Linked DNA regions of Homo sapiens: region 1 is linked to region 2. The links come from fine-mapping of genetic effects on gene expression. A gene starts in region 2. The other region holds a variant in brackets. All regions are shown on one strand. Distances are from middle to middle. Region 1 overlaps LOC124903372. Region 2 holds the start of TCL1A (TCL1 family AKT coactivator A).

Region 1 (5,339 bases), 41 kb before region 2:
TTTTTCATCTGCATGAGTAATTGTTTCCTGTTTTATCCAGAGAGACAACAGATTTACATCCCAGACACATTCACACTGGGCCAAGAGCAGCTGCCATTGCAGATTCGAGTCACGTCCTTTTTTCCTTCCTTCTCCTTCTTGGAGTTACAACAGAAGCTGGGGAGGTGAGAGTGCAGGTGAGAGAGGAGGGGGGCTCTGGAACATGTAGCCTGTGAGGAGGGAAATCAGGATGGTGCTTGGGTGGAGGTGGGAGCTGGGCCAGGGTCTTGGCTGGTCAGGAAGGCTGGTGAAGCATGTACTGGGGAGGCAGAGGTCCTGCTTTCTTTCCTCTCTTTCCTTCACACCTACCTCAACCCACTGTCGAGTCCTATCAGCTCTGAAATAGATCCTTCCTCCAGCGCCTTCTCACCTCTCTCTCCACCATTCCAGTCCATGCCGCCTCATCTCTTACTGGGACTTTCACAACAGCCTCCCGAGTGGTCTTGGCTTCTGCTCGCAAATCCTGCAGTGCCTTCTCTGCGGAGCCACAAGCTGGATCTTTTTAATCCGCTCTCGGTTTCTCACAGCCCTTGGAATGAAACCTTGGCCTACAGCCCTGTGTGACTTGCTGCCTGTCCTTACCTCCTAACCTCATCTAATATCCCCTTCCCCTCCTCGTACCGGCCTTTCTGTTTCTCAGACACTCCAGGCTTGTTCTGCTCTTGGACCTTCACGCTGTCTTTCTGTCTCCTGGGAATCTGTGCCCCCTCTGCCAGATCATGCAGCTGGCTCTCTCTGCCCAAATACCCTCTTCCGAGGGGTCTTCCTTGGCCCTGTGTCTGACATAGGTACCCTCCTCCATCACTCCAGCCCATTACAGTGCCATAACACTTTTATTGCCATCTAGAGTAACATCAGTTGGTTTTGTTTATCATCTGCCACCCTGCTAGAAAGGACGTGGATGAAGCAGAGAGGCACGTGCCTGTCTCATTCGCCTCTGGATCTGCTGCATCCAGGACTGTGCCAGCACAAAGTGGGAGCCCGATAAATATTTATTGAAGAAATGAAAGGTGACAAAAGGCAGAAGGAGGGAGACCCCAAAAAGAGGTAAATTTGGTATCTTAGCAAGTGGGTGACTACCACTGTCTGGGGGAAAGCTGATACACGAGGACTTGACAATAATTACAGCAGTAACAATCGCTACTATTTTGTTTTGAGATGAATTTTAGTTTCTGAAATTGTCCAAAGCACTTTTATCAATAGAAACTTGTTACACATCCCTCCAACAGGGAGAAGCAGCACAGGAAGCTGCCCCCTCAAACACTAAAGGCTCCTGGAGCTATTCACAGTGCTGGGGAACAACCAGAGGAGGAGGAGGACAGAGGGAGAGAATACTTTTTTTAAAAATCCCAAACAAAACCAAATTCTATACATGTATATCTCGAGTGAGTAAATGTGTAACACTCAGCAGTCTCCTACACTTGCCAGGTTTTGTGGCTTCATGCAGTAATATAAAATGTGCTTCACAAAGCTAGGAGTTGGCACAGAATATAGGGTTCTGATTCATATTTTAGTTTTACTTTTTTGTAGAGATGGGATCCCACTATATTGCACAGGCTGGTCTCAAACTCCTGAGCTCAAGCGATCCTCCTGCCTTGGCCTCCCACGGTGCTGAGACTACAGGTGTGAGCCACCACTCCCAGCCTGATTTATATTTTATAAAGAGGCAACGATGGAGTACACAGCTGAGCAATCTCTTGCATTTCTGGACCTTGAGCATCAGGAAGCTTAGGGAGGGTGAAAACTCAGAAGAAAGCTCAGAGTTGAGACCTTTGATTTTTTGCCCAGAGAGTCCAGCTAACACACTTTATAACCCAAAAGGCCTTACAAATATTTCAGAGCAGAGGCAGCATTTTTGCACTGGATAAACAAAGGTACGGTAATTTCTTCATAGTTTATTTTCATTACAAGTAATTCTTTTCCTGAAGAAAAATTTATATTTCAGATTTATTTCCCCTCTCAAAGGGGAGGGGAGTTATAATATTCTGTTTCCATAGCACCATTCCTCAAGATCAAACCCAGGCAGGCATTTTTACAGCACACACTTCCATATGTCATTGCTAATCCTCGCAACCTTGAGGAAACTGAGGTGCAAAGGGGTTGAGGAATGTGTTCACCATCCCAAAGCCAACGAAGTGCCAGAACCCAAATCCAAGCTTGGCTGTCTCATCCCCAAGGACGTACTCTTTATGCCGTTCCTTATGACTTTTCATGCAGCAGGTGCAAGGCAGCAAGAATTTGGCTCTTCTGACATTTATCAGGCACCTGGTATGTGCCAGGCCTACTGTAAACCCCAAGATGACATGGTCCATGTCTATCCATTCAGCATCAGAGAGACTGTTATCAGGACTTGAGGCCTGAGACACAGCCCTGAATCAGATGCAGGCCTCTGGTGTTTGCAAAGGATGCGTGAGTATGTGTATGTGTATGCGTGCATTGTGTGTAGGGGTGTGTGTATGTTGGGGGTTGGGGGCAGAAAATGCTCCCTGAACTGTTGGTATTAAGGCAGATCTTTGATGGAGGGACTGGGGTGTGGAGACTTGAACCCTAGTTTC[A/G]AAGTGGGGACCTCGAACACTAGTATGGCCAGCAGACAGGCTGGAGTTGCTGAATTGTCAGCTAGGTCTTTAATCCACTCCCCTTCTCTAAATCAGGGTGGAATTGGACTCAGGGCTGGTTCAGGGCTGAGGTTTCCGGGGGATGAATGATTCCAGACAGTGGGAAGGGGTGATGGATGATGAACCTGGCAAGTCACAGGACTATGGACTTGGCTGTATGTTGCATGTATGTGTAAGATCTGAGTTGAGACCTTTGATTTTTGCCCAGAAAGTCCAGCTAACATACTATATAAGCCAGTGAGACCAGCCAGTGTCTGTTCATTGCCTCTGCCTTGCCCCTATGCCTGCCCGCCTCCTATAGCAGGTCCCTATAGCATAATGAAAATGCGAACAACCTTTTCTCTGGACACTGGGGAATCTAGTCTGGTGGATAAAGATGGATGGCTGTTAAACGATCACATCTTGGGCTCTGTGTGTTCAGTGAAGCCTCATTTACCAGATCTCTCTGATGAGAAAGGTGAATGGTGGGGACAAAATACATGCTGTTATCAGAAGTCTGGCGGGGGCCCTGTGCAGTGGCAAGCACCTGTAGTCACAGCCACTTGGGAGGCAGAGGTGGGAAGATCGCTTGAGCCCAGGAGGTTGAGGCTGCATTGAGCTATGATGGCACCATTGTACTCCAGCCTGGTTGACAGAGTGAGACCCTGTCTAAAAAAGGAAAAGAAGTTTAGGGGGAAAGCTTTTAGGAGGTGGATGATGGTTAATTTTAATTCCACCTAACATTTTAAACTTTGGTATGTCAAAAGGTGAGAATTGCCAGTGTCGAGGCATGGAAACCAAAGGAAAACTAGAGGGTTGAGAAGGTGGGAAGGGCCGCAGTGTGGCAGGCGGCAGTTACTGGGATGGCTTCTACTAAAGGAACTCATCGTCCACCACCTTCAGGAAGGAGGCTCCTGGGGCCCTTTAAGAGAGCAGTTTCAGTGGAGGCTGCAGGCAGGTTGGCAGAAACAAGATTATGAGATGGTCTGTACCAGGTATCAGGCTTGAGGGTTAGTGCCTCTAGACTTCTCTGAGAAGTCTAGCTTTGAAGGGAAGGCTGGAGAGCTAGCACAATACTCAATAATAACAAGACCTAAGGCACTTACTGTGTGCCAGGCATGTTCTAAGAACTCAGCACACTTCAGCTCATTTAATCCTTACAACTATACAAAGTTTGTAGTCTTTTCATTATACCTTTTGACAGGTGAGTTACTTGCTGGAATTCACGTGGCTAGTAAATACTGGAGCTGAGATTTGAAAGCAGGCAATCTGGCTCCAGAATCTGTGTTTTCAACCCACATACTATATTGACCATCATGAAAAAATGGTGGTGAGCAGGCTTGTTTCTAAGGATGGGAGGGTCCTCATAATATTTGTATTTACAGAGAGGAGGGAGAGGTGGGTTACTTCCTCTCCCAACCCCAGAAAGCCAGGCATGTTGGCTGGCATCCCTGGGACCTCAGATATTCAAGCAACCATGGCCTTACAAATCAGGCATTCTATTTATTAGAGTTGTGCAGTGAGGTCCCCTCCATTTCATCCCCAGAATATCTCCTAGACAAGTTGGATCCTGCAGGGCCCGAGTATAAATAAGATGGTGCCCTCTGTTGTTATGGAGTAGCTTGGAGCTGGGCCCCAGATGCCCTGTGTGGATTAGATGAGTGATTAGTATTTGGCAATGTAGCTTGAGAGGCTTGCTGAGTTACTGGGGCATATGTCCCCAGCTCACGAGTACCAGCCTGACTTCTGTCAATCAATCAGTGAACAGGGTTTGCAGCGTCCACCAGGTACCTGTGGTGTAGTAGAAGAGAGTTTGAACTTTGGAATCAAACATGCTGAAGTTCAGATTCCAGCTCCTCCACTAACTATCTCTGTGATCTTGGCTAAGTGACCGTCACTTTTTTTTTTTTTTTTTTTTGAGACAAGGTCTCATTCTGTCTCCTAGGCTGGAGTGCAGTGGCATGATCATGGCTCACTGCAGCCTCAACCTCCCGAACTCAAGAGATCATCCCACTTCAGCCTCCTGAGTAGCTGGGACCATGGGGCGCCTGCCATGGCATCAAGCTAATTTTTTATCTTTTGTAAAGATGGGATTTCGCCAAGTTGCCTAGGCCAATCTCAAACTCCTGGGCTCAAGCGATCCACCCACCTCAGCCTCCCAAAGTGCTGGGATTACAGGTGTGAGCCACCGTGCCCATCCTGATGGTTGCTTTCAGAGCCTTGATTCTTCATCTCTAAAACAAAGATAGGAATACTGCCTAGTTTCCATGAGGAGCTTGTAACACATGCGGGCCTCTCTCCCCTCACCCCAGTCTTTGGTTAGACACTTACTATTTGCAAAGACCCAATTTCTTCATCATAAGAAGGCTGCCACCACACTTGAGGGAGTGACCCATTTACAAACAATTGCTTCCTTCTGGGTCATTCTGATGGATTAAATGAAGAACCATTTAAAACCACAGCCCAAAGGGCCAGAGGGAGAGGCAGCAGAGGGAAGATGCAGGTGGATCTTCATGCACTGCATGAGGAAGCTTTGTACCATGGTCAGGAAAAGCTCCAGGCACACAAGGGCAGCCTCCATGGCCAATCAGAGTGCACCTCTCACCTCGGCAACTCTGCTAACCTAAATAGACCAGTCACACAGCAGAGCTGCAAAAGAAGACATGATAATTACAGAGACCCCAGGGGACCGTCTGTGCGGACTGA
Region 2 (5,373 bases):
TACTCTTATTTCCTCAAAACTCAATAGCGTATCTAATATCTGGCTCAGCTGATATAATCAAGCACCAGTGCTTATTTAATAAAGCAATGGTAAGGCCGGACGTGGTGGCTCATGCCTGTAATCCCAGCACTTTGGGAGGCCGAGGCGGGCAGATCATGAGGTCAGGAGATCGAGACCATCCTGGCTAACACGGTGAAACCCCGTCTCTACTAAAAAAAAAAAAAAAAAAAAAAAATTAGCCAGGTGTGGTGGCGGGCGCCTGTAGTCCCAGCTACTCCGAGGGCTGAGGCAGGAGAATGGTGTGAACCCGGGAGGCAGAGCTTGCAGTGAGCTGAGATTGCACCACTACACTCTAGCCTGGGCCACAGAGCCAGACTCATCTCAAAAAAAAAAAAAAGCAATGGTAAATGAAAGTGCCAGCTGAAACTTGTGAAGTACTTTATAGATATGAGCAGCTGCGATAAAGGGGGCTGCCTACAAAGCCCTTGGCTCCCGAAGTGGTAAGGGAGACATGAGTGCCTCCAGGAAGCCTCTCCCATCCCTAGGGACCCTCAGATGGCAGCAGTCGGGGAGGGGTTAGCACTGCCTTCATGGAGAAGGGGTGGTCTTTCTTTCTGATACAGCCACTGTGGACTAAGAGGGGTCAGGCTCCAGTGGAGCTCACCATACATCAGTCATCTGGCAGCAGCTCGAGAAGCATGTCCTCCACGCCGTCAATCTGAGAGGCAGAGAGAGAGAGAAGGCATTGATCGGCCAGAGCCCTCCACTCCCTCCATTCCTCACTCCTGCGCCTTCCCCTAGCTGGAAACAGCAGGTAGGAACCCAGGTGTGAGGATTTCAGGGGCTCTTGGAGACTGCCCCTCCTCCCACCAGCCTTCAGCCTGTGACTGCCCACCAGAGATGTCTTCCTGCGGCTAGCTGGTGGCTGGGAGGAAGTGGAGGTAGGGTTCTGTTAGAGACCTCAGAGGATCTATCTTCTCTCTGGTAAAGTCCTTTAGAAATCTGCACTTGTACATTTCCCCCATTTTTTAATGCTTTTGGGACTGGGATGGAGGGAAGATAAACCACTAAGGCCAGACATGGAGGAGGGCAAACCCAAGATCACCCGATGGACCTCTGGGAGAAAGACACTCACCTTGATGTGGTACACTAAGCGCCAGAAACTGGAGTCTGAGGATCGGTATCGTCCATCAGGGTAGAGCTGCCACATGATAGGCAGCAGGCTTGGGCCTATCTGGGTGGGGGTCATAGGCCTCCCCAGGACGACGTCTTCCCGACGCAAGAGCACCCGTAACTGTAACCTATCCTTTATCTGAGGAGAAGAAAAGGACAGGGCATACTTTCAGGTTCCGCTTGCCAGGGCTTCTCCAGGCGCAGAAAACCGGAATCCCTCCTGCCAGCCATCCACCCATCTGGGCAGGGGTCCGAGTGTGAAATGATGGTCATCACTGTTCCCTGAAGCTCACTTCCTTAGGCCATGCATGCTCCTCTCAGGGACTCTGGCTGGGCCAGGACCACCAGCACACACACGTGTCTAGCCACCCAGACAGGGCCATGAAAGGCACACTTTTTTCTGGCGGGTTGCAGCGGCTCACACTTGTAATTCCAGTGCTTTGGAAGGCAGAGGCAGGAGGATCGCTTGAGGCCAGGAGTTTAAGACCAGCCTGGGTCACAGAGCGAGACCCTGTATCTACAGGAAAAAAAAAAAACAACAAAGAAAGAAAGAGAGAAAAAGAATACTGGCCTTTTCAATGATGTGAGGCAAAATCTGTCCCACAGTTTGCTAGTGGGTTATTTTTTGTGGAGCATGTATCATGATTTTATGAAAAACTGTCTGGTTCGTGGTTTTGGTGTCACGTTGAAGAAGAGATTTCTCAGAGATTTAAAAAAAGAAATCCACTGAATCTTCAAATTATTTCTTCAAATTTTGATTTTAAAAAAGTAAGTATTTAACTTGATTTTTAAAGTAAAAACATATTTAAAAAATTGAAATGCCAATAAAAATGCAGATTTTGTGGTGGTTAAGAGCCTAGAATTCCAACCCCATTACCTACTAGCAATCTTACCTCGGACAAATGTACATTTTTGTGCCTCAGTTTCCCATCTGTAGAGACACAGTCAACACTCAATAATTTTTGATTGCTACTGGACATACGTGTTCTAATATATTTTTTAATTTTTATGCTTTCTTCAGTGTATGTTTGGAGAGAGTTTGAACATTTTTTGACTCTTTTTCATTGAGTAAATCCAAATACTTGTAAAAGACTTATCTATTTCTTTAACAAAAACTTAACATGGATTAAGGACCCATCTTAAGGCATCACACATTAAAAAAGTCAATATTGATTCAATACCGGCGCTTATACTACGACATCACTTGTTAAATTTGTTTTCTAAATAAAGCCCAGAGGTAGTGGAAAATACTTCACACTCTAGGCCAGTGTTTGCTATGCCTGGTTGACCCTAAACTGTTGAGGGTTCTTTTTAAAAATACAGATTTCTGGGACCCACCTGAGATGATTCCGATAATCGGCCATATGGATGAGTCACTTAGAGATACCCATTTTTAAGGATTAGGACCCCGAAGCCCAGAAAATGCCTGCTGTAGTCAACATTATAGTCACACTCCACAGGCACTGGGTCCACCCCTTTGACCGACATTCCTTTGCGGTTTTCCCACCCTTCTTCCCTGCCTGGAGAACTCCTATTCATCCTCCAGAGCCCGGCTCAAAGTGGCTTCATCTGTGGGGATCCTCCCTGCCCCATAGTGAGTGCTCCTTGAGTCCTCGCCCTTCCTAGGGCATCCCAAGCTCCCAGGGGCTGCCCCTGCTGCCTCGCCATCCGCTCCAAAGCTGGCTGTACCTCGATGGTTAAGGGCAGCCAGGCGTGCTGCTTCTCGTCCAAATACACGAACTTCTCCCAGGCCCACAGGCGGTCCGGGTGGTCGGTGACTGCCTCCCCGAGTGTCGGGCACTCGGCCATGGCGTCCTCGGGCCGCCTAAGAAGCAAGAGCCAGAGCCTCTCAAGGCCGCTCGCTGGTCCCTGGGATGTGGGGCCGACCCTTTATATCCGGGCAGCATGCGGCCGCCACCAAGCGGCGGGGCGGGAGGACGGCCTTGGGGCGGGACCCCGGGTCGGGAGAACGACCTTGGGGCGGGGCGTAAGGCAGGATGGGGCGGGGTTTGTGGGGGTCTTGGTGGCAAGTGAGGGTCCCGCGCAGGCGCTACGTCCCGGCCTGACTTGCTCCCTGGAACGGTGGCAGCTCCTGGGAACGCAGACCCGGCCCCAGCTGGCCCGCGCCTTCCTCGAGGCCCCGGCCAGCAGCGACACCGACCGCCGCCCTCTGCTGCTGCTGGAGAGGCACCGGGGTGACCTTGGCCCTTTCTTCTTCTGGAAGACCCCCCCGCTTCCCTCGGCTGCCGGACCGGGACTCTGGGCCTCTGCTGGGAACTCACAGTCGACACCAGGATGCCCAGAGCCAGGACCCACTCCTCATCTTATGGGATCAGAAGAGACCCGCGCGGGCCTGAGTTAGGCCTGGGCTTTCCCGGGTTCCCTGGATCTCCACCAGCCTGTGCCTTTGAGTGTCAGAGTACGTTTTTTGGCAAAGGACAACTCCTGACGCTCCCTCTCCCTCTTCCATACACAAAGCATGCGTTTTCCACAGGTCTGATGTGCTGTGGACATCTAATAGCTATTACAAAATGGAGAATCATGGGTTTTTGCCCTTGGGCTTTGAGTTTACTAGTGAAAGCATAGTTCGAAATGAATACTTAAAAAGAAATCCCTCCTTCCACCCTAAGATCAATGGATTTGAAAAGTGCCTGGTTTATATGATCAAAACCACCCCTCTGTAAATTACAAGCAATAAGGAAAACAATTTCACTTTATTTTGCAGTAACGCATTCCCACTAAGGCAATTAAGAAAGTCATGCACAATGAAAAACATGTGAAACCAGCTCCAGCCTGGTTCAAACATCACCATGGGATGGAGTTTGGTGTCTCATCTTCCAGCTCTTTCCCAGTTCTCTGACCAGGCACTAAGAACATAATTTGTGATCCTTTGAAATATCACCAAAGTGGAAATTAAGAGATCTGATGAGGACATCTGATTCACCTGGCAGCTGGGTATCTGCCTCTTTGCCTATCCAGAGAGCCTAATTCCCAAGAAGGGGCTGAGAGGGCCTAAGGTAGTCGAGACATAATGGGATTTACCAGGAACACAACATAGAAGAGAAAAGCCAAGGGAAGTTGGGGGTGGAGTGAGGGCCCTTGAGCTCAGCAAACCTCTTTTCCACTGTAGCCCTTAGTGGTGTTAATATTTAATATGCAAACTTAAAGGTTTCATGCTGATTTTCCTGTGAATGGCTCTTGACTCCAGACCTAGATAGCCACAGAGCAAGATGACAAGCTCGCTAATAAGCTCTGTTGGGGAGGTCTCAGCCCAGGCCAGAGCTGTGAAGTGAGAAATAAGTCCAGTTTAAATAGTGCTGCTGGGATGGACTTTTGTGGCCAGGGAAGGGGTACCCAGGAGCCAGTGTGGCCACTGACCCAGCCTCATCAATGGCCCTAGGATCCAGAATGCCACAAACAATGGAGCAAGAATCAGATCTGTGTGTCTGGGTAAGCAGAATGTTCTGAGAATATAATTCCTTTTTCCTTCTTTTGTAAGAACAATTTATTTCTTCAGTTTTGCATGAGGGCTTCTTAATATTGAGCAAGAATATACATCATTATTGCGTGAGATTTAGAAAATTATTTGAGAGAGGGTTCCAATAAATGAAAATGAATTAAGGATGTCTGTGGAGTTCATTGGGCAACTTATAGAGCCCTTGAGCTTTTTTAAGTGAACATTCCACAAGAGGGGAAACAGTAGCTATTGCATAGTCTCAGAGCTGTCTCTGAGCCTCCGTGGCATGTTATCTGCCCCATCTAAGGGTTATAAAGGCCATAAGCCTAGCTTTAGAATTTTATGTTCCTTTCCAAGTCTTTGTTAGTCTGATTTCCCTGAGGATAAGCAAATGGATGTTTCACACAGAAAGCTACAGGAAGCAATCATTTTGACAGAATCCTTAATGGATGCGTTCATGTCCTGATTTAGATCTAGTTTTGCCTTTACCACGATCACCTGTGAACTTGACAAATCCTTTGCAACTTGGCCTCAGTGCCATAGTTTTGTAATGAATGGGGCAAAATACCTGCTCTCTAAGCTTGTTTCTAACTCAGTAGGCCCCAATCCTCCTATAACATTGCCTAGTGGGAGGAGGGAATAGTTAAGAAAAGAGATGGACAAAATATATGATGTTAGTTCAGGAATGCCTACAGTTTTTGGTACAGTGGCTGTAGATCAAGGACCCCAGTGGAATTCATGGG

Evidence for each region. PIP is the estimated chance that this variant, and not a neighbour inherited with it, causes the effect. A credible set is the group of variants that fine-mapping cannot tell apart.
Region 1: its variant is the best candidate, but not a certain one, in a credible set for the expression of TCL1A in whole blood (TOPMed, PIP 0.67).

The regions. Positions count from the first base shown.
Region 1 is chr14:95,670,402-95,675,740 of GRCh38, forward strand. It overlaps LOC124903372, which reads left to right. Exons shown (of 2, transcript XM_047432042.1): 2 at 1-13. It overlaps TCL6 (T cell leukemia/lymphoma 6), which reads left to right. Exons shown (of 8, transcript NR_028288.2): 6 at 41-176; 7 at 930-1,086; 8 at 1,570-3,051. Among named protein-coding and RNA genes, the nearest start is that of TCL1B, 13 kb to the right of the region's middle. The variant A/G (reference allele first, on the strand shown) is at 2,595.
Region 2 is chr14:95,711,085-95,716,457 of GRCh38, forward strand. TCL1A (TCL1 family AKT coactivator A) reads right to left here and starts at 3,041. Exons shown (of 4, transcript NM_021966.3): 1 at 2,863-3,041; 2 at 1,136-1,312; 3 at 665-718. The coding sequence starts at 2,982. The coding sequence ends at 671. It overlaps LOC107984703 (a long non-coding RNA gene), which reads left to right and starts at 4,399. Exons shown (of 3, transcript NR_148060.1): 1 at 4,399-4,623. RefSeq lists enhancers at 1,102-1,201, 1,242-1,401, 1,442-1,661, 2,776-2,825 and a silencer at 3,056-3,295.